3 linked regions of the Homo sapiens genome follow. The protein of the gene in region 1 purifies or fractionates together with the protein of each later gene. This does not show direct contact. Each region holds a gene or a part of one and is shown on either strand. Other genes may lie near its edges.

Evidence for each region. Proteins that work in one complex are often made in the same cells at the same time.
Region 2: the proteins of FCN1 (region 1) and KIAA1549 purify together in Homo sapiens (affinity purification with mass spectrometry; 3 studies listed by BioGRID and IntAct, with this or other methods). This does not show direct contact.
Region 3: the proteins of FCN1 (region 1) and POTEF purify together in Homo sapiens (affinity purification with mass spectrometry; 3 studies listed by BioGRID and IntAct, with this or other methods). This does not show direct contact.

The regions. Positions count from the first base shown.
Region 1 is NC_000009.12:134,914,912-134,922,656, forward strand, and holds the start of FCN1 (ficolin-1 precursor), read right to left. Parts: upstream 3,002-7,745; 5' UTR 2,961-3,001; coding exon 2,858-2,960; intron 1,551-2,857; coding exon 1,437-1,550; intron 1-1,436.
Region 2 is NC_000007.14:138,915,383-138,922,407, reverse strand, and holds part of KIAA1549 (UPF0606 protein KIAA1549), read left to right. Parts: intron 1-2,969; coding exon 2,970-5,660; intron 5,661-7,025. UniProt on the Homo sapiens protein: May play a role in photoreceptor function.
Region 3 is NC_000002.12:130,105,216-130,112,240, reverse strand, and holds part of POTEF (POTE ankyrin domain family member F), read left to right. Parts: intron 1-139; coding exon 140-246; intron 247-1,560; coding exon 1,561-1,698; intron 1,699-1,883; exon of another isoform or gene 1,884-2,954; intron 2,955-4,156; exon of another isoform or gene 4,157-4,161; coding exon 4,162-4,232; intron 4,233-4,434; exon of another isoform or gene 4,435-4,654; intron 4,655-7,025.

The sequences.
Region 1 (7,745 bases):
CCTTGAACCCCTTCTGGTTCCAGGAGCTCTCAGAATTGCTAGCCATGGATTTAGCCTGGGGGTGACTGCAGATGGAGGTGAGGGATTGAGGGAGGGGCCTGCACCCCACCTTGGGCTCAAGGCAAGGTGCACCTTGCTCCTGTTTGTGCCTTGGGAGCAACCTGGGTTTCACACTCTGTTGACCATAAGCCTGGACCCAAGTCACCCACACAGAGCTCTACTGCCTAGCAAGGGACCAGGTTCTGGAACAAAGAATGCGTCCTCAGAGAGCCTCATCCTACCACGTCCCCACACGGAGAGGGTGGGCGCCACGTGCAGCCGCTGCTGCCAGGGAGGATCCGGTTCCACCGTGCGCCTGAGCTCCTGGGGTGTCACACAGCGCTCCACGTGGTTCTGGCCAGAAAGGTGACCCTCCCGTCCCCGATGCCAGCCAAGAGGCAGCCCCCAGCCCGCTCGCTGACCCCAGTGGCTGGGGAGAGTGTATGGGGGCTGGTTCTTGCTTTAGGGTATATTAGCCAGCCATGCCCACTGGTAGAAGCCTGGTTCAAGGGAAGTCTGAGCCAGACTTGATTCTTCTCCTGCCAGGGAAGGTCTTCCTCCCCAGTGTTCCCTCAGCAGGGGATCGGGACCGCACTCTCAGGTCCAGCCTGCGGAGTGGGCACAGAGGACCTGGCCCCGGACACCCACACGGAAGCCTAGACACGTCAGTGAAAGTCCAAGTCATAGGGACATTTGAGCTTGTCCCATCTACACTGGGACATCCCCACCAAGTGCTCCGCAGGCATCATCTTGAATGCGTCCAGGCATGGGGAGCTCACCCCCTAAGGCAGCGCCCTTTCTGAGTTTTTGTGCACGTCTGCCTTATGCCATGCTTAGGGGGACCCAAAACCACCCAAGGCAGGTGCCTGCTGTTCATTCTCCCATGTTCCCTGCAAATCCACATGCAGAGCTCAGGGCTCAGGATTCGGGTGCCCTCTGTGCCCTGAAGTAGACCAGTCCAAGTCCCAGCCCCACTCCTTACTGGTTTGTCAAGTAGGAAAGCCTGTGACCTCTTTGAGTCTCAGTTTTCCCATATGAGGCAGGTGCAGAAGAAAGCGGTCACCTCAATTTTCAGGTGAGAAGGTGGAGGGACACAGAGCTTAGAAGTCGTGCCAGTAGCTGAGCAAAGCTGGTATTGGATCAAGGACTAGGAGACAGAGCTACAGAAGCATGTCCAAATGTGAGCTCATGAAATAGTTAGGAAAGACCCTCCCTCCATTTCAGAACCCTGTTGGGCCCTGGGAGTCAGCTCTGTTCCTGGCTCTAGCAGGGGCCTGACCCAGGCTCTTGATCTAGGAACCACGGTGGGGGTGTTGCCCAACTCTGCATCCAGTTTCATAAAGAGCAAGAGCCAGTGCCCCTGCCATGCCTGGCCTCCCCACCCGGCCCGCACCTACCTCTCTCTCCAATGACACCTGCCTCTCCCTTTGGCCCTGGGGCCCCGGGCAGCCCCGGGCAGCCTCGGAGAATGGTGAGCTTGTCAGAGCCCTCCAGGCCCACCACCTTCACCTCTGCAGAGAAACACAGGTGCCCACTCAGTGCCTGGCCCAACAGTGGCTGGGAAGTGAGGTTTTCTGCTCTGCTGGGGCCTTGGTCTGTCCTCACCCCTCAGGCACTGGTGAGGCGGAGATGTGATGGGGGGCAGAGCTCTGGCTTTGGAGGCCACCCCGACCTAGGGGAGCCCCATCTCCTCAGTGCTGTGTGTCCTGCAGCAAGTAACTTAACTCCTCTGAGCTTTGTGCCCTGGGCTGCCAAGCGGGGATAATAACAAGGTTGCGGCCAGGATTTGGTTAAAGAATGTGCATTTTAAATCTCTTATTGTAATTTATGGCATTTAGAAAGAGCTTAATAAACAGCGGGCACTTTCAATAACTAATGACAATCAATATTTCTAAGAAACTTGGGGAATTGGGGCTGACAAAGCATTTTCCCTCCCAGACCTTGGGAATGTGGTTGTAGAATTACTGGGCTGGAAGGGGCTTTCTAGGTCCTCTGGAGAGGGGCAGTGTGGGGTCCAAGGACACAGAGCCAGGTGTGGCACAGCTGCAGCCAAACCAAAGTTGTTTACTTCTTTGAAAAAATATTTTTCATTTTGTTCATTACAAAATCTACACGCCCTGCTAAGGGCGCTCTTAGAGACCATGGAACGGAGCAGTGCTCTCACCGGAGACATGGCACTGCCATTTTTGGGGTATTTCCTTTCTGTGTTTCCAGTCCTCCTTCCACTAGAGCAGGCTGTAATTTACTATTTATGTTTCCTTCATAAATATGTTATCAGCCAGGGGCACCAGGCCGTCCTTAGGAGCAGTCTCTTGCTGAGCGTCACAGAACCACCTGCTCCTGAATCAGTGAGGGAAACACCTTACCACCGTTCAAACCCTTGTCCCTATCAACTGATTCCGACTCTCTTGGAGGAGAGCCAGAAATCTGCCTTTTTAACAAACCCCCCAAGTCCGTGTGGCAGCCACCGTATTAGAGGGTCTTAGAGTGCCTCCCTGGTAAGCCCGTAAGAAGATAAAGTCAACAGTATTTTCTTCCTTCTCAGTGACAGATTCCAGACCCACCTATGAAGCTCCAATGGGCAAATCCTGGGCTTTCGAGGCAGACAGACCTGGTGACATCCCTCCCCTATCCCTCCATGACCCTGGGCAATGCCTCAGCTGCCCTGAGCCTCCATGTCCTTGCCTGAGGATAAAACAGATCTGTTGGGCATCTTCACAGGAAGATGTGCATAAAAGGTTTTGCCTGGGACACCCGAGTGTCAGTGAGTGGGGTTGTTACCAGCTTTTAGGGACCAGAAAACCCAGGTCTGTCTCACCTGGACATGTGTCCGCAGCCTGGGCAGGCAGGTTCTTGATATGCAGGAACAAGACTAGCAGGACAGCGAGCCCCCGGGCCATGGTGGCTCCACTCAGCTCCATGCTCTCTGGCCTTTGACTCTGAAGAGTCCCCCAGCTCTAACAGGGCAGAGGAAACCAGCTCTCGCCTTGTGCCACAGTTTCTCAACTCCCTGGGGGACACCCACTTCCTATGGGCTGCTTAGTTGCACCAACAGGAGGTATGAGGTCATCTCAAAGGATGTTTCCTTCCACTAGGCTCCAGCAAGATGCCCACCCCATTGGGCTCTCTTCCCCCAGCAAAGACACCCTGCTCCCAGTCCAGAGAGCTCCTGAGACTCCTCTGCTGGAAAGCATCGGCTTTGCTTGTGGCTTAAGGAGAACACAGCCCCCACACCCCCTTTCCATTCCCCAGCTGTCCCCAAGCAATACTCGGAAACCTTGACCTTAACCTTGGGGGATAAGGAAGGTTTTGCTGAAGACGCTTCCTTGCCTCATCTGTTCCCAGAAAATTCAGGGTTTGTCCGTCATCAGGCACTTATCATGGATGGAGAGGAAAAAAATGTTGAGCACTTGTTATGTCCCAAATACTATTTCCATCATATCATCTTGCACCAGCCCCATTCGGTGGAGTAAATTATTTGAAAGTTACAGCTGGAGAAATTGAAGTCACTCCACTAGTAAGAGCCAGGCATTGGACTCAATTCTGTCTAACGCCTTGTAGATCACTGGGATTGCTCATTTCACCTGAAGGTGGGGATGCCTCTTGTTCCCCCAAATCCCTGAGGCCATGTTCCTACTCCGCATCTCGTGCTGTGAATCATGCTTAGCCAGGCCACGCTGTGGACACTTTGTGCGGGATTTTTAGAACGTATAGAAATAGTCACTAACGAGAGTCAGATGGTAGCAGGACTAAGGAGCAGGGAGAGGTGTTGTTTTGTGGTTTGCAACTTCTCTGAGCCAGCGTGTGTAGACTGGGTTTCCAAACTCAAGGGCTCCCCAGGTGGGAGAGAAGTGGAGGGGCGGCCCAGGGGTGGGGGATCCAGGAGACACAGGACCTTGTGTCCAGGCTCTCTGGGCACCACAACGACTCTCGACTGTGTGTGTTTGTGTGTGTTGGCTCCAGCCTGTTGAGAGACAACGGCAGGAGGCTTCATTGCCTCAGACACCGCTTAGTGTCCCTGAGCTACTGGCCCAGGCGGGAGAGGTCTGGGTGTCAGTGGTGCGGCCTCCTTTCTTGGAGAGGATCCAATTCAGGAGCAGCACTCACCTGGGATTGGGTCAGAACAGGGAGAAAGCCAGCAGGTCTGTGCCCCTCAATTCCATTTGCCAGCTGCCCCCTGGGTGTGAGGGGACCTCCTCTTCCTTGCAACATCAATAGGTTTATTTCAGGTGAGAAGTCAACACCACCTTCAGATATCAAGTCAATGTTCCCAAGAGTATGAAAGAATGCAAGATTCTGGCAAGTTAAAATATCTTAACATTGGATCAACAAAAGTCATTTGATTCCTGGCAATGGCAGTTTAGGTATTTGGGGGCATCCTATTAAGGACAAACAGACAAAACCTTTAAAAAGAGATTTGCTCGAAGGCACCGTCAAGCTAGCTATGTAGTAAAGGATTACTTTGCCAAGCTCTCAGGAGCCACAGAAATCTTAGAGAAGTGAAACTAGTAGTGGGGACCTCTTTTTGCACAGGGATTTGCCAATCTCCAAAAGAGAGGTGAGAAGTTGGGCAGTGATTTCACCATCTTGCAGAGCTGAAGGTCAAAGACTGGGGCCTACGGCCTGCCAAAGGTATGGGTTTGGGGTTGGCTTTCAGAAGGGCTGCACCCTAGCAATAGGATGAGTGAGCAACAACCAACATTCACAAGGGCTGCAAACTGGTTTTGAGACATCTAAGTGTCCCAGGAAAGGAATCTCAACTCCTGGAATTATTGCTCATGCCCCCAGGCTCCTTGCTGAAAGAAACAAAAATCTTCTCTGAAGGAGAATGACATCATCCCAGGTCATTATTTCTGCAAAGTGTTTTATTTTTTTCAAATGAAATGTTAAAACACAATCAACGATAACCAGGCTCATGGGAATAAAAGACAATGTGTATAAGGACCAACAGAAACAACAGAATATAGAAAGAGGTCTTTGGAAGCTGTGGATACAGAAGTTACAACATAATTAACAGGAAAAATGGAAAACCATCCTCAGAGACTGAGAACAAATAAGGATGCTTGTCATCACCACTGTGGTCAACATTGTATTGCATGTCACTGTCCAGTGCAGTAGGCAAGAGAACAAAACCATAAAAAGATTGGAAAGGCAGACACAAAGTTGTTATTTTCAGAAGACATGATTGAGGATGTAGAAAATTCTAGAGTTTCTACAGATAAACTAGCAGAATAAAAAGTTTAGCAAAAATCAATTGTGCTTCTAAAAACTAGCCTCAAAGAATTTAAAAATGAAATTTAAAAAATTTGCATCAGCAACACCAAATTCAAATAACTGTGAATAAGTCTAACAACATCCATGCTGGTCTTCTGTGTACAAAACTATCAAATAGGAACAGAAAGACCTAAAAGAAGATTAAAATAATTAGAAGGATATTCTATATGTGTGGATTAGAATACCAAATATAGGAAAAACATTCATCTTCTCTTAATTTATCTAAATATCCACTGTATTATCAATTAAACTACCATTTTCTGTGACAATTGACATGGTGAATTTAAAATTTATATAAAGGGCCGGGTGCAGTGGCTCACACCTGTAATCCCATCACTTTAGGAGGCTGAGACAGGTAGATTACTTGAGGTCAGGAATTCAAGACCAGCCTGGCCAACATGGTAAAACCCTGTCTCTACTAAAAATACAAAAATTAGCTAGGCATGATGGTGGGCACCTGTAAACCCAGCTACTTAGGAGGCTGAGACAGGAGAATTGCTTGAACCCAGGAGGCGGAGGTTGCAGTGAGCCAAGATCGAGCCACTGTACTCCAGCCTGGACGACAGAGTGAGATTCCATCTCAAAAAATATATAATATATATATTTAGCAGGGTGTGGTGGTACATGCCTGTAGTCCCAGCTACTCAGGAGGCTGAGGTGGGAGAATTGCTTGAACCCGGGAGGTGGAGGTTGCAGTGAGCCGAGATTGCACCACTGCACTCCAGCCTGGGCAACAGAGTGAAACTCTGTCTAAATAAATAAACAAATAAATAAATAAATAAATAAAATTTATATAAAGGCAAGAGGCTGATAGCCATGCTATTCTTGAGCAAGAAAAAACAAGGGTGAGTTGCTTGAAGTGACACCAGCAGTCATTATCAAGCGATAGTGATGGAGACAGTGTGGGGCTGGCTTAGGCGTACACAGCAAACCTAGGGAAGTGAGTAGGGAGTGCAGAAGCAAATCCAGGCACATACGGACCCTAGATTTATGACATGGTGGCTCTAAAGAGCAATAGTGAAAGAATAAACTTTCAATGAGTGGCACAAACTACTGGAGAGTCATATGGAAAAACAAGAAGTTACACTTGACTTTTATCAGATGAAAAAAAAATCCACATCAGGAGAAGGGTAGACCCAAATGTGAGAGGGAAAACAGCAGTTTTAGATCATATTATAAGATCTCCAATAGCCTTGCAGTTATTTTAAATAAGATGGAAAACCACAAACCATAAAGGACAAGTGGAAAAATTGATCATGAAAATAGTATTATTTCTTTTTCAAAATACACCACCGTGGGAGGGAAAAGACGAGCCAGGGTGAGGGAAGAGAGGTTTCAACACACAGAAGTGACAAAAGGCTTGTATCCAGAATAAAGGGTTTCTGTAAATCAACGATGTTGTAGAAAGTGGGAAAGTGACTTCAACAAACGCTTATAAAAGATAATATTTAATAGATGATGGAAGTATGAAAACATGCTCAACTTCATAACTAATCCAAGAAATGAAAACTTAAATCTCATGAGATGACTGCAGACACTAAAATTTTTCTAAACAGCCAACTCTGCAAGGTTTTGGTGAAGAAGTGTCAGAAACCTTGGTACAAGCACTTCGGAAAACTGGCAGTATTCCCAACAATTCCCTACGACCAGCATATTCCATAACCAGCGATGTTCAGCTCAGTTCTACTCAACAGAGAGGTGTGCCCAGCTGGAAAGAAGACACGTGTGAAAATGTCCAGCCCCACGCCGGAAACAACCCAAACGTCCATCCGCAGCAGAATGGGGCCGTCAGCTGAGGTTCGTTCATACTGGAGCATCCTGTAGACCCATAAAATGATCGGATTCCAGCTTCACGCAAAAGCTTTGTTGAAATCCGCAAGCACACGGAGCATCCAGGGCGCCAGCACTAAGGCATGCGAACTGTTCATTTGCATCTGTACAGAGTTTGAAAGTGGGCAAAACTGAACAGCAGTGTGAAGGAATGCATGCTCGGTGGCAACGTGGAGAAAAAGGCCCAGACCATGCCAGTGAGATGACCGCTCCCTTAGCAGGGGCCAGTGAGACGACCGCTCCCTTAGGAGGGGGAGCCCTTAGGCCTGGAAGGGGCACGGGGGGCTGGAGATGGGTTTTGGCTTCATTGGGTGATGCAGGTTTAGTTTATGCACTCTGGTGAATGGGTGTTAAATTTCACTTAAAAGAGCAAGCTTAAATAAACTATTTAAGTAAAATAAATAGAACACATAAGGGTCACCATCGTCCTGTATTGCTCCCACCACAAGCTATAGCCCAGCTGTCTCTGGGAGGTTTGGGGATGTTGAATGCCTGCTGGTTCACTTCCCTGTTGCAGCTCAGGCTTCTGGGAGGTTGAGCAACCCCTAGCCTGGCTGTTGCTTCACGTGCTGGGTCTGCAGCCTGAGATGAGCCTTGGAAGG
Region 2 (7,025 bases), on another chromosome or scaffold:
TTTTGTTCATGGTACTTTGCTTTCCTATGTATTTTATAATTTTTACTTCTGTGCTCTGCAACTCTAGCTGCAGGAATACTTTGAAACCAGACTGTGAATATGTTCTTCTGGGTGTGATTTATGTTAGTTTCTGACAGGCGCTGGAGACCTGGTCCACTTTAAATTATGACTCTAAGCATACAGTTGTTAGGACTATACAAGTAGTATAGGTTCCACACTCGGGATGACGTTTCGTACAATAGCTATACAAAGTCAGAGCTGAGACATATACTTTTCCCTTGTTTGGCTTAAACAGCAGAAATTGATTGTCTCACCGTTCTGGAGGCTAGAAGTCCAAGTTCAAGGGTGGCTTCCTTCTGAAGCCTGTGAGGGAGAATCTGCTTCAGGGCTGTCCCCTAGCTGCTGGTGATTTGCTGTCAATCTTTGCTGTTCCTTGACTTGTAGACGCATCATCATGCTCTCTGCCTTCATCTTCACATGGTGTTCTCCTTCTGTGTATGTCTGTGTCCAAATTTCTGCCTTTTTTTATTTTTATTTTTTTTTGAGACGGAGTCTCACTTTGTCTCCCAGGCTGGAGTGCAGTGGTGCAATCACGGCTCTCTGAACCCTCCGCCTCCTGGGTTCAAGCGATTCTCCTGCCTCAGCCTCCTGAGTAGCTGGGATGACAGGTGTGTGCCACCATACCCGGCTAATTTTTGTATTTTTAGTGGAGATGGGGTTTTGCCACGTTGGCCAGGCTGGACTCGAACTCCTGACCTCATGATCCGCCCTCCTCGGCCTTCCAAAGTGCTGGGATTACAGGCCTGAGCCACCGCGCCTGGCCCAAATTTCCATCTTTTATACGGTCACCAGTATATTAGATGAGGGACCCACCCTACTTCAGTATGACCGCATCTCAGCTAATTACATCTACACTGACCCTGTTTCCGAATATGGTCATATTGTGAGGTCCTGGGATTTCAACATAGGAATATTGGGAGCACGTAATACATAAGCCATAGCAGTGTCTTAACCTGGGTTTTCCGCCAGAAAGCAAAGTCTGAGACGTGGGTTTATGTGCATATTTTATTCTAGGACATGATCCTGAGGAACAGAAGTGAGAGACTGAGGAGAGTTCAACAGGGAAAAGGGAAAGTCAGTCCAAGGTGTTCTCAAGTCAGACACTATTAGAAACCGATGCCTGTTTTTGCTGTCTTCTGAAAAGTGGATATTTTTCTTCCTAATTCACTCTTTCCCTGAGATTATGACACTTCCTGGGCCTCCACTTTTGGAAAATGGTCTTCAGTTGGGTTCTTTCCTTATCTAGGCTAACACTTGTCCCTCATCTCCGTTGTGGCCTAAACAACAGGCCAGCTGGTCCAGTACCTGCCTTGGGTCCCCAGTCACTGCCCTTGAGCAGCTCCTGTTTTATTCCTGGATTCAGCACGTTCCCCTTACTGTCTTGCAGGCCATCCAGTCACTTAGAAGATGGTTTTTAAACATTTATTAAGCAATCTTAAATGTTCTGAAGTAGACAGTTTCAAGATCTCTAGTCTGCCATGTTGCTAGAAACAGAATAGAAATGACTTACTTAAAAAAATAGAGTAAATTCAAGACTGTCCTTATACCATTTCACACAGGTATGTTCTGATAGACTGTTGGGATTAGAGAAACGAGGTGTTGTTATGCATTTTGATAGTTGCTCAGTTCTCAGCCTGGGCTGCAGAGGACAGTCCCTGGGCCCTGGGCTTTCATCAGTGGCTGGGCCATCACTTGTCCTTTTTCTCTAGGCTATGTCATACCTGAATTATCGGTGGAGAGGCCTCAACTTACTAAATGATAATGACAGCAGTCACAAGTTAAGGAATACAAAAGTTTGAATGGATGATGGGATAATGTTGGCTTTTGTTGTCAGAACTTGGTATCCTTGGATTTCATTCATTCATTCATTCATTCATTCATCAATCCAAGTGATGTCAATTGAGCTCCTAGCACTTATTGTGCTAGGCACTGGGGAGACAGGTAAACAATGCCTGTCCTTAGGAAGCCCAGAATCTAGTGATCAGATAGTTCATTTCAGTGGGCATGATAAGGACAGGGAGAAGCCTAGGGAGAGGCACGAATCCAACTTCAGAGCATCGAGGATGAAGCTCATATCTGTGCTGCATCTGAAGGGCCAGAAGGAGCCATCCATATAGAGAGCTGGGGAAGGGCATTCCAGGCGGGGGTGAGAGGATCCATCCATGTAGAGAGCTGGGAAGGGCATTCCAGGCGGGGGTGAGAATGTGCACAGCCATGGAGGCCAGAGAGTGTTTGGGTTTGGGGCACTGCAGGTGCCAGAGCATAGCTGGGAAGGCCTAGAGTGGGGCAGGAAATGGTGAAAGCTGAGGCTGCAGGAAGCCTGGGGCCTTCATGTGGAAGCCTCAGCAACTGTGTTGGGGAGCACAGCTGAGGAACTGGGGAACTCTCTTACTTGGGTAGTGAGAGATGCAATGAGTTGTCATGTTCATTTCTCGTAGCAGCCAGCTCCTATCACTGAAGAGAAAACACACAGGCCTTGGAGTCAAGGAAGCCTTATATTCAGATTCCAGTTCCACTCTGTCTGGGTGGTCTTATAATTGATTTATTTACCTTCTGGAAACCTTTCTTTACTCATGTCATAAATGAGAGAAAATGGACTGAACAGCCCCCTCTGTTTCCAGTATCCTACGGTTCTGTGGGAAAAACTGTAAATATGCCCTCCCCACCCCCACACATACACAGCTTAGGTAAAAACAGTGCCCAAGTTTAGGAATATTTGCAGATATTGTCCTGATGGTAATTCTGTCAATTTCTCGTTTCCAGCTAGCTGTTTAACTTCTGACGGTGATTCATGGATATTTATGGTGAATGGATGTTTGTTAAATGAGTAAATTCTCATGCCTGAAACAAAACGTTAGCTGTGTGACTTCCAATGCATTGCACTAACCCAGCTCTGATTTTCTTGATAGATGAGCTCTCTCCGGAACAGCACAACCTTTCTTTATACTCCATGGAGCTCGTGCTGAAGAAAAGCACTGGGCACAGCGCTGCACAAGTGGCCTTAACAGAAACTGCTCCCGGCTCCCAGCACAGCAGTCCTCTCCATGTCACAGCCCCGCCGTCTGCCACTACTTTTGATACAGCCTTTTTTAACCAAGGAAAACAGACCAAAAGTACAGCAGATCCCAGCATCTTTGTGGCAACTTACGTGTCAGTGACGAGTAAAGAGGTGGCCGTCAATGACGATGAGATGGATAACTTTCTGCCAGATACTCACTGGACCACTCCACGGATGGTTTCTCCAATACAGTATATCACAGTCAGCCCACCAGGGCTGCCCAGGGAAGCATTAGAACCTATGCTCACTCCATCATTACCCATGGTTTCTTTACAAGATGAAGAAGTGACATCGGGCTGGCAGAACACAACGCGACAACCAGCGGCATATGCTGAGTCCGCCAGTCATTTCCACACCTTTCGGTCAGCTTTTCGCACCTCTGAGGGCATCGTTCCAACTCCTGGCAGGAATTTGGTGCTTTATCCTACTGATGCTTACAGTCATTTATCAAGCAGGACTCTGCCAGAGATTGTGGCTTCCCTAACAGAGGGTGTGGAAACCACCCTTTTTTTAAGCTCCCGGTCTTTAATGCCACAGCCGTTAGGCGACGGCATTACTATACCGTTGCCCTCCTTGGGGGAGGTCTCACAGCCTCCAGAGGAGGTTTGGGCCACAAGTGCAGACAGATACACTGATGTGACCACTGTGTTGAGTCAAAGCCTAGAAGAAACCATCTCTCCAAGAACATACCCCACTGTGACTGCATCGCACGCAGCCCTTGCATTCAGCAGGACACATTCTCCATTGCTTTCAACTCCTCTTGCATTTGCGTCCTCTGCTTCACCAACTGATGTTTCATCTAACCCCTTTCTCCCTAGCGACTCCAGCAAAACATCCGAATTGCATAGCAATTCAGCCCTCCCCGGTCCTGTGGACAACACTCATATCCTGAGCCCGGTGTCCTCATTCAGACCATACACTTGGTGTGCGGCCTGCACTGTGCCTTCACCTCAGCAAGTTCTGGCCACGAGCCTCATGGAGAAAGACGTGGGATCAGGGGATGGTGCCGAGACTCTGTGCATGACCGTGCTGGAAGAAAGCAGCATCTCTCTAATGAGTAGCGTCGTAGCAGACTTCTCTGAATTTGAGGAAGATCCTCAAGTATTTAATACGCTTTTCCCCTCCAGACCTATCGTCCCACTTTCTTCTAGATCCATGGAAATCTCAGAGACGAGTGTTGGCATTTCTGCCGAGGTGGATATGAGTAGTGTTACAACCACACAGGTTCCCCCTGCCCACGGCCGCCTCTCTGTGCCGGCGTCACTTGATCCTACTGCTGGCTCCTTGTCTGTTGCTGAAACCCAAGTGACGCCATCCAGCGTGACCACTGCATTTTTCTCGGTCATCACCAGCATTCTCCTTGACTCATCTTTCTCTGTCATAGCAAACAAAAACACACCGTCGCTTGCCGTCAGAGACCCGAGTGTTTTTACGCCTTATAGTCTGGTTCCTTCAGTGGAGTCTTCACTTTTCTCTGACCAAGAACGTTCCAGTTTTTCTGAGCATAAACCCAGAGGTGCTTTGGATTTTGCATCCAGCTTTTTCTCAACACCCCCGCTGGAACTCAGCGGCTCCATCTCTTCGCCTTCGGAAGCACCTGCGTCTCTGTCTCTGATGCCGAGTGACTTGTCCCCCTTCACATCTCAGTCTTTTTCTCCCTTGGTTGAGACATTTACATTGTTTGACTCTAGTGATCTGCAGTCATCTCAGCTGTCTCTTCCCAGTTCCACAAATCTTGAGTTTTCGCAGCTCCAGCCAAGTTCCGAGCTGCCTTTAAACACCATCATGTTGCTACCTAGCCGTTCTGAGGTGTCACCATGGTCAAGCTTCCCTTCTGATTCTCTCGAGTTTGTTGAAGCGTCTACGGTTTCACTGACGGATTCAGAAGCTCATTTTACCTCAGCTTTCATTGAAACTACCTCCTATCTTGAGTCTTCACTCATTTCCCATGAATCCGCAGTCACTGCACTGGTGCCCCCCGGCTCTGAGTCTTTTGACATTTTGACTGCCGGGATTCAAGCAACATCACCATTGACCACTGTCCACACAACGCCCATTTTAACTGAGTCTTCTTTGTTCTCAACTCTGACACCTCCTGACGACCAAATCAGTGCTCTAGACGGTCACGTGTCTGTCCTGGCCTCTTTCTCCAAAGCCATTCCCACTGGTACGGTGTTGATCACTGACGCGTACCTGCCATCAGGATCCTCGTTTGTTTCTGAAGCAACCCCCTTCCCTCTGCCCACAGAGCTGACCGTCGTGGGCCCATCACTCACACCCACAGAGGTGCCACTGAACACCTCCACGGAAGTGAGCACAACCAGCACCGGTGCTGCCACTGGTGGTCCCCTCGACTCCACCCTGATGGGTGACGCCGCAAGTCAGAGCCCCCCAGAGAGTAGTGCTGCTCCTCCCCTGCCATCCCTGCGTCCCGTGACTGCCTTCACTCTCGAAGCAACAGTCGACACACCAACACTGGCTACTGCCAAGCCGCCATATGTTTGTGATATCACAGTCCCCGATGCCTATCTGATCACAACTGGTAAGGCCCAGCTTCCTGCCGCCTCTCTGGGGTGGGCAATCTTTCTAAGGAGCTTGTGTGCAGTGCCTGTGAGGCTTGGAGCTTCATGGTTAAGAGCAGAGGCGCTGGGCTCAGTTAACTCCCAGGTAGTACTCCTATGCTTACCTCCTGCGAGTTCTCAGAACAGTTATTTATCCTCTCTAATCGTCTGCTGCCTCACCCATTAAACAAGGAGCTTAGTTAAACCTGCTTCATTGGGCTGTTGTTCAGATGTAAATGCGTTAGTCCCTGCAGAACGCTCAGCCCTTGCCTAGTACATCAGAGGCATGCACGGGATGGTGCATATTAGTCAGCAGTCACAAGGAGAATAAATATTAGAACAAATACAAGAACTAAACAAGCCTTGGAAGTTCTTGGTAGGATCTTTGTCCTACCATAACCCAGTAGGTGCATGGATGACATAGTTTAAACAAAATACTTTTTTGTTTAATTCAAGCAATGAGTTGGGCAACTATGTAAGGGCAACCCTTGCAATTTCTTACTCATTTACTCTTCTTACTTTTCCTTGAAAGGAGACTGCACTTTGCTCTCATAGGTCCCTGTAAATGCCCCTTGGGTCCCGAGGAAAGAAAAGTAAAGTGACTCTTTGCTCTTATAGGTCCCTGTAAATGCTCCTTGGGTCCCGAGGAAAGAAAAGTAGTGACTAAATATCCTCTGAATCCAGTATCAGCCTTTGGTCTCCTCCCCACCACAGCCTGGGTTGCTAGCAGACTGGCCAGCAGCTTCCCTTGCAGTTGCATGGCTGCTGTGGCCGCGTGAAGCTGGTGCCCACCTGAGGGCATGCCTGAGAGGTAGACTGATTTCAAGGGTCATGTCCCGCGACGGTGGCCCGCTTGGTCAGGGTCTCTGCATTTTTCCTCATGAGACATGACAGGTGTATGTGGTCTCGAGGGTCATGACTGTGTGCTGAACCACAGCCTGGTGGTGACGAGCAGCCTGTCCTCTGTTTTGATTTTGGTAGGAGTGGAGGACAGAAATGAAAAAGGGGACGAAAACGGCAGAAGAGGTAGGGAGGAGTGGGGTGGAGTGGACCGGGAAGGAGAGGAGCAGAGAATGTGGAAGGGGGAGAAGGAGGAGAACACGCTGGGTCTTTTCCTCTCTGTGGTCGGGGTTGCTGGGAGCCTCTGCTCACTGTGACAGTGCCACATCCCTCTGGGCAGGTGGGAGCGAGGATCCTGATGGCAGGTACACGTCAGTGATCAACACCCTACCTGTGGGAATGGCTTTGGAGAATGAGTCCAGGACAGCCTTTGCTCCCCACACGCCAAAGGGAAACATTCGTTATTCCACATGGCAAGTAATGATTGAGCACCTAGTATGTGTGAG
Region 3 (7,025 bases), on another chromosome or scaffold:
AAGAGTGAGAAGGAAGTGACTACATTTTATTTACTTCTATGCGTGTAAGTCCATAAGATCTTATATAAAGTTTCCACTTCGGTTGAGGAATATGTACTTTTTTGAATTACATAGGTTTTTGCTTTATATTGTTTTACAGCATGGCCTCACACCACTGTTACTTGGTGTACATGAGCAAAAACAGCAAGTCGTGAAATTTTTAATTAAGAAAAAAGCGAATTTAAATGCACTGGATAGATATGGAAGGTATAGTTCTTTCTTTTAATCTGTGTGTTGTAGATGGACAGCAGTCACTCAAGTCATAAATATTAAATTAATAAGATTAATGTATACTTACTGGGATGTAGTGATCAGTATCAACACAAATCAGTTAGGTAGAAAAACAATTACTTGGGCTGGGCAACATAAAGAACAGTTTTAGTAGGATTCATCTTCTCTTATTATATTGACTGATGTTATTTGTTATGTGACATTTTTGGTTACATGATCTTATGTTAGCTTAAAGGATTTCATATTAATTTTATGAAGTTTGAACTTTAACTTTTAGTTTACTTTATGACTCAGTATTGAACTTCTTAACCCTTTCTAATAGTTTTTAACCTGTGTCTTACATGCTTTTCCATTAAATATGCTGTATTAAACATAAATAGGGGTTGAAAATCCTTTTGTCTTTTTAATGACTTTGCTTTAAGTTGCTTTCTTTGAAGAATATTAGTGTTAGCTTATCCCTACATAACAATTAATTGCTGTTCCCACATACTGTGGGTTCAACAGCTTTTTTCCTTTTGTTTTTCCAGTGTATTTTGATGTTTTTATTTTTAATTGGTATGGAGAGAGGGAGTGAAGATAGTTTTAAGTGGATACACTTTTCCTTTAATGAAGACAAGCCGTACGTGGGTGATAAAGAGAAAAGAGCTAGGCTTTGGATTCACACAAGACTGGGTTTAATTAGTAACTTTCTTACTTGCTAGGTGTGTGACCTTGGGGACGTTATTTACCACCAAATATGTTGTCATATATGAAAAGTAGGAGAATATATCCTTCAAAGTTGGCTGTGCATAAGTAAGAAAGATATATGTGGCATTTAATTCAGTGCCTAGCACATGGTTATTGGCACCATTAACTGAAACTCCTATGACTACTATTCTTACCATTATTATTACTGCTTTGAGCATGCAGAGAGCTCTTATTTCTCTTACCCCCTAGCTGATTTTCTATTACAGCATGTCAGTCTAGGGAAGCTGTGACAAAATCTTCACTTAAATCTTTGTCCACCTCAGATAAGTGGCCCTAACATTGTTTCTTGCCCATCAAAGGACTTTAAATTAGTAGCTTCTGCTATGCAATACCCCACTGAGATAAGAGGGTTTTTTTTGGTCCCTTCCTTTTAACCTTGGTGGCATTTTACAAAGATGAACACTTGAGCACTCAGGTTGCTTATGTCTTTTAGTGCATGTAAATGTTTGATTCTGCACAGACAGGCAAGATGTTACATTGGTAAAGTATATCAAATTAGCTTTAAAAATAACTTTATTACAGTTCCTATCTCTGTCATTTTAGAACTGCTCTCATACTTGCTGTATGTTGTGGATCAGCAAGTATAGTCAGCCTTCTACTTGAGCAAAATATTGATGTATCTTCTCAAGATCTATCTGGACAGACGGCCAGAGAGTATGCTGTTTCTAGTCATCATCATGTGTAAGTGTTTACATTAAAAGGCTAGTTAATGCTGAATTGAGGTTTAAAATAATTATAACAGTTGCATCTCACATATCAGGTGAGATGTCATAGTTTGGTTCAGGTAGTTTTCGCGTGGCAGTGAGTTTTAGTCCCCTGCATCAGCCAGAAATCAGACAAAAAGCAAGACAAGTTAGAAGTACCAATGGGTGCGGGATTCTTTATCTCAGGACTTTTAAGATCTTTATCCTTAGAGATCCCAGCATTGTTCATTTGATCCAAGTGTAACACCTATGCAGGGATAAAAAATAGTGTCACATCTTTAATTTTTCTGATTAGTTATTTGGGTCTTGAAATGTCCAGTTTAGCGGAAAGTCTTGTACTGTCTTCTGGGGACTATGTCCTACATACTCCTTGAATTTTTCAAGAACCGAAGGAGTTCACTAAATCCAAGGAAGACAGTCCCTTTTATCAAGTCAGAAGGAGGAGGAAAAAAGACATTGCAATCATTCTGTTGTTTCCGTTGATTCTGTTGCTGCTTTGTGGCCACTCAAACTGGTCCTGCTGCCTTAAGATGAATCAGTAGATTCAGATCCCTCAAGTCTTCATGGCGATTCATACAGTGACTTTGATGTTTTTTAATTCCCATACCTATGCTTATATGCTCAGCCATTGTTCCCAGAGCACCAGCCCCCTGCTCTGGCCGCTGGGCATCCTGACTTTATCCGCACACAAAGTGACCAAATTGACCCTTCCCCGCATATTCAGAACCTAATGTGGAACCCACATCTTAGCCAGGAATTAGCTGAGACCTTCATGGTAAGAGATCCTTTGAGGCTGTTGTTGGTCTTTTCTCTGGCAGATGTTAGGTGGGCTTGTTCTAAAGGGTGAGAGGGGTTCAAATAATGTGGCAGAAGGAGGTCAGTGTCTGTTTCCTCTTTGCTACCAGATCTGTACTGTGAGGCACCTTTATATCCTGTATAGAACCTTGGGCAGTAGAAAGTCCCGTATGAACCTTGCCCTGAGCAGTGGCTCCCAGCTGTGGTTGGCCCCTTGAGTGATCTGATTTACATGATAATGAAAATTATCGGAGCTACTTCCATCTCTAGCTCAAGATTTTAAGATATTTTCAAACTCTAGCTCACAGGAAGCCATTGAAGAGAATTCTCAGAATCTCAAGTAGGTTAGTTGGACTTCACAGAGCCAAGCCTTGTCCATGACGCATCACTAATCATATGTAAAAGTAGGGCTTTGTGCTTGCTTCGGCGGCACATATCCTAAAATTGGAACAATACGGGGAAAGTTAGCGTGGCTTCTGCATAAGGAGGCAGGACAGATCTTTGAAGCATTCCATATTTTGTGCAGTCACTGGAAGGTCATTTGACTATTTTTGCTGACTAGCTCTGAGGAAATAGTGTGAATCAAAGCAAAATGGGTGCCACCCAAATATTGAAATTGTGATTTGTGCTGCAAAAATAGTCATGTAAGATGGTCTATGAGATGACTTTGAGCTGAATAACATGTTCCGTGCAAAATATATTGTTAGTATGTATGTCGAAAATTACAGAATGTCAGCTTGCTACTTCTCCGTGGAAACTAAAAAAAAAATAAAAGTAGACTTTTGGTCTCCCATGTCAGCTGGAATTGAACATCAATATAAAGCATTATCCTAACAGACATCTACTGGCTGAGAGTTTGAGTCGGTAGAGAAGGATCGTTGGTCCAAGTCAGGTCTTAACATCCATTGGTTTTTCTGCCCTTGGTGTGATTGATCAACTCCGTAATAGTGGACAATCACATTATCTACTTTAATGAGATATTTATGAATAAATTTAGTTATAAACTATGACATAGTTGAGATGCCCTGAATTATAAGCCATAAAGAGTAGGACAACTAAGAAGCAAAATTAGGACTTAATAACATTTTCTGAAAACTACAACATTTGCATATTAGAACCTATGAACAAAATACGCATTGGGTTTTATTTGGGATTCCAAGATAATTTTAGTCATAAAGTTTAGGAACAGATTATTCCATTGCTTTACTATTTCTCTGAGCATTTAAAAAATGTTATCTCGTTAAATCTTTATAACAACCTAGTGAAATAAGGCAGCAAAGTCCTCACTTTGTTGAAGAAGACATTGAGCCTAAGAGAAGCAAGTTGTCCAAGAACAAATAGCTGTTCATTATGGAGCTAGGACTTATGCAGAGTTGGGACACTTTCTATTATGTCATGCTAATGCTAGCTAATTTACTGGGTCACAGTGCCCTCGATTTATGACTATTTCACCTTACATTTTTTTCTTCTTTAATTAGAAGCTTAAAGAGAAGTTTGTAGAATGTACTCACAAGTGGGTGGGATAATACTATTAAGTTCTGTTATTCTGATATTGTTTGAAATACTCTTAATAATTCTACATTTGGTAAGTTTTTTTATATCAGTATTAAAATAGTAATTTGGTTTATTACATTTTTATACATAGAATTTGCCAGTTACTTTCTGACTACAAAGAAAAACAGATGCTAAAAATCTCTTCTGAAAACAGCAATCCAGGTAAGACTTGTGATAGTGAATTACTTTAGTCAGTTGTCCCCAATCTTTTTGACACCAGGGACCGGTTTTGTGGAAGACAATTTTTCCATGGGCTGGGGGAGGGTGGGGATGGTTTCAGGATTATTCAATCATGTTACATTTATTGTGCTACTTTATATTATTATCACATTGTAATATATAATGAAATAATTATACAACTTACCATAATGTAGAATCCGTGGAAGCTCTGAACTTATTTTTCTGCAACTGGATGGTCTCATCTGGGGGCAAAGTGAGACAGTGACAGATCATCAGGCATTAGATTCTCATACGAAGCACACAACCTAGATCCCTCAGATGGGCAGTTCACAACAGGGTTCATGCTCCAATGAGTATCTAATGCTATCACTGATCTGACTGGAGGCAGAGTAGAGGCTGTAATATGAGCCATAAGGAGTGGCTGTAAATACAGATGAAGCTTCCCTGGCTTGCCTGCTGCTCACCTCCTCCTGTGTGGTGTGGTTCATAATAGTCCATGGACTGGTATGAGTCTGTGGCCTGGGAGTTGAGGACCCCTGCTCTGCGTGGTCCTACCATAGATAAAAAAGTAAAAGTAAGGAATTTTTGATCACAAAAGAACACTGAAGCACAAGTCATGTTACATATGCTTGTCCCAATAAGTTCTCACTATTACTGACTTCATTCCTCCTCATTTGAAGTTGGAAAGAGATATATTTACTTTGTTGGAACAAGATGTGTTCTTCTACCTGCTGGTTAATTGTCATCATAACAGTAATTTTGTTAGAACAAGATGCTCTGCTACCATTTGCCAAAAGATTGTCATAATAAATATACAAATTGCCCAACTCTAGGCTCAGCAGATTATAATAAAAGCAGAAAAACGTTTCACGCTAACAAAAATGCTAGTATGCTACCTGGTTGTGGACACCTAATACATTATATTGTCCAAACTGTGTGAGGACACCTTTAATTTAGTCATCTATTTATCAAAGAGCTTTTGTAAGTTAGGTTTTATAAGTTGCAGGAGACAAAGATGGAATAGATGTAGTTTTGATCTTTAAGGTGCTCATAATAGAGCTGTCTCCATTTCATTTCTGTGCTTTTTCAACAGAATTTACAAAGAAAACATTTCTATTTATGTTTTCACTTGTCCACTTAACATATAACTATCAAATGTCTTTTAGATAGTAACCATTTTTCTAATGCTATAGACCACAAACAATTAAAAATACAGACAGGAGCTTTTTGTTATCATTGTCATTTTCATTATTTTACTACTTTATTCAGTGCTTACTGTGTGCTAGATGCCCACTGGAAGCTTATAATTATGATTTATTATATATTGATTATGTGCCAGACATATGTGATGAGGAATGAAAGTTTTGGGAAAAAGTAGGTATGATTTAAGGTAAGCATGCAGAGAGAGAAGAATTTTTCTAGGTAAAGAAGCAGAAGAAGAATGTTTGGCAGAAGGAACATGCAGCGAGGTCGTGTGTTTGCCAGAAGGAACATCTAATGAGATTGCCTGTTTGGGAGGAAGAGCAGCAAGTGCAAAAGACAAGATGCTTGAGTGAACATGGCAGGGTTTCTGAGCAGTTCACTTTTGCTAGTACCAAAAGTGTGTGATACGAGAGGTTGGGAATGAGGTGAATACTTAGCTAAGGCAAGTTTATGATAGACTTTTTAATACTATAGAAATGAGTAGGTCTTATCCTGTGTGCCATGGGAAATTTACTGGGTAGAATGCTTTGGACTGCAAATACTAGATGAACAGTGGCTAAAACAGTAGGAACCAGAGTTGTTTTGGTTGTTCATTGATATCCTAGGATCCCACTTTTCCCTCTTTCAGCTGTGCTGTTGACAGTGTTTTATTCACGTCTCCTTTCATGGTTGGCTAATCCGCAGCAGCTCCAAACATCTTGTTCTCACAACACAACATCGCAAGGGCTGCTTTTCTTCACATGTGTCTTTTAAACAGGGAGAAAACTTAGAAGCATGCAAAGGGCTTCCTGTAACATTTCACTGGCTGGGTCACACCACATGCTCATTCCCAAACCAGGCACTGGGAAGGTAAATACCTGATTAGCTTAGAATAAACATTTCTGTTTCTGAGGCTGAGGAGGGGGATTGGGATAATAAATATCCCAATAGACTTGGATTTCTTCTTCAAGAAAGAATAAGGAATGGCTATTGATAGGGAGCCAACAATGTGTGCTGCAGGGGCTCATTGGAGAAATTTGAGCAGGGGAGTCACAAGATTAAATTTGAGTATTAAGGCATTCTGGTTATGGTGTAAAACGGGTTAGCAAGCTTTTTCTGTAAATGGCCAGGTGGGCAATATTTTAGACTATGTGGTCTCTGTCATATCTACTTAACCCTGCTGTTGTCTGCTGTTGTAGTGTGAAAGCCACCATGATTATATGTAAGCAAACAGGCATGACTGAGCTCCTATAAAACTTTATTTACAAAGCCATAAGGCAGATTGGATTTGGCCTGTGGCCTATAGTTTGCTGGGATTGATGGAAGGTTCTTTACCATGTAAAGAAACCAGGAGACAAAGGAAGTTTTCGCAGTAGTCAGCTATAGTTTCCTTGTCATACATCCTTGGAGTAGCATCAATGTATTACAAGGTTTTCACCCGTCCTTAGTGAAATACATAAAGTTAGGAATCTCAACTACTTGTTTTAATATGTTGGCCTTTGTTTTTTTGGTGTTATGCTTTTTTCATTTGTTTTGCTTAATTTTTTTTATGTAAGAAATAACATTAATAGTTGGCAGGCTTTTTTTTAAATA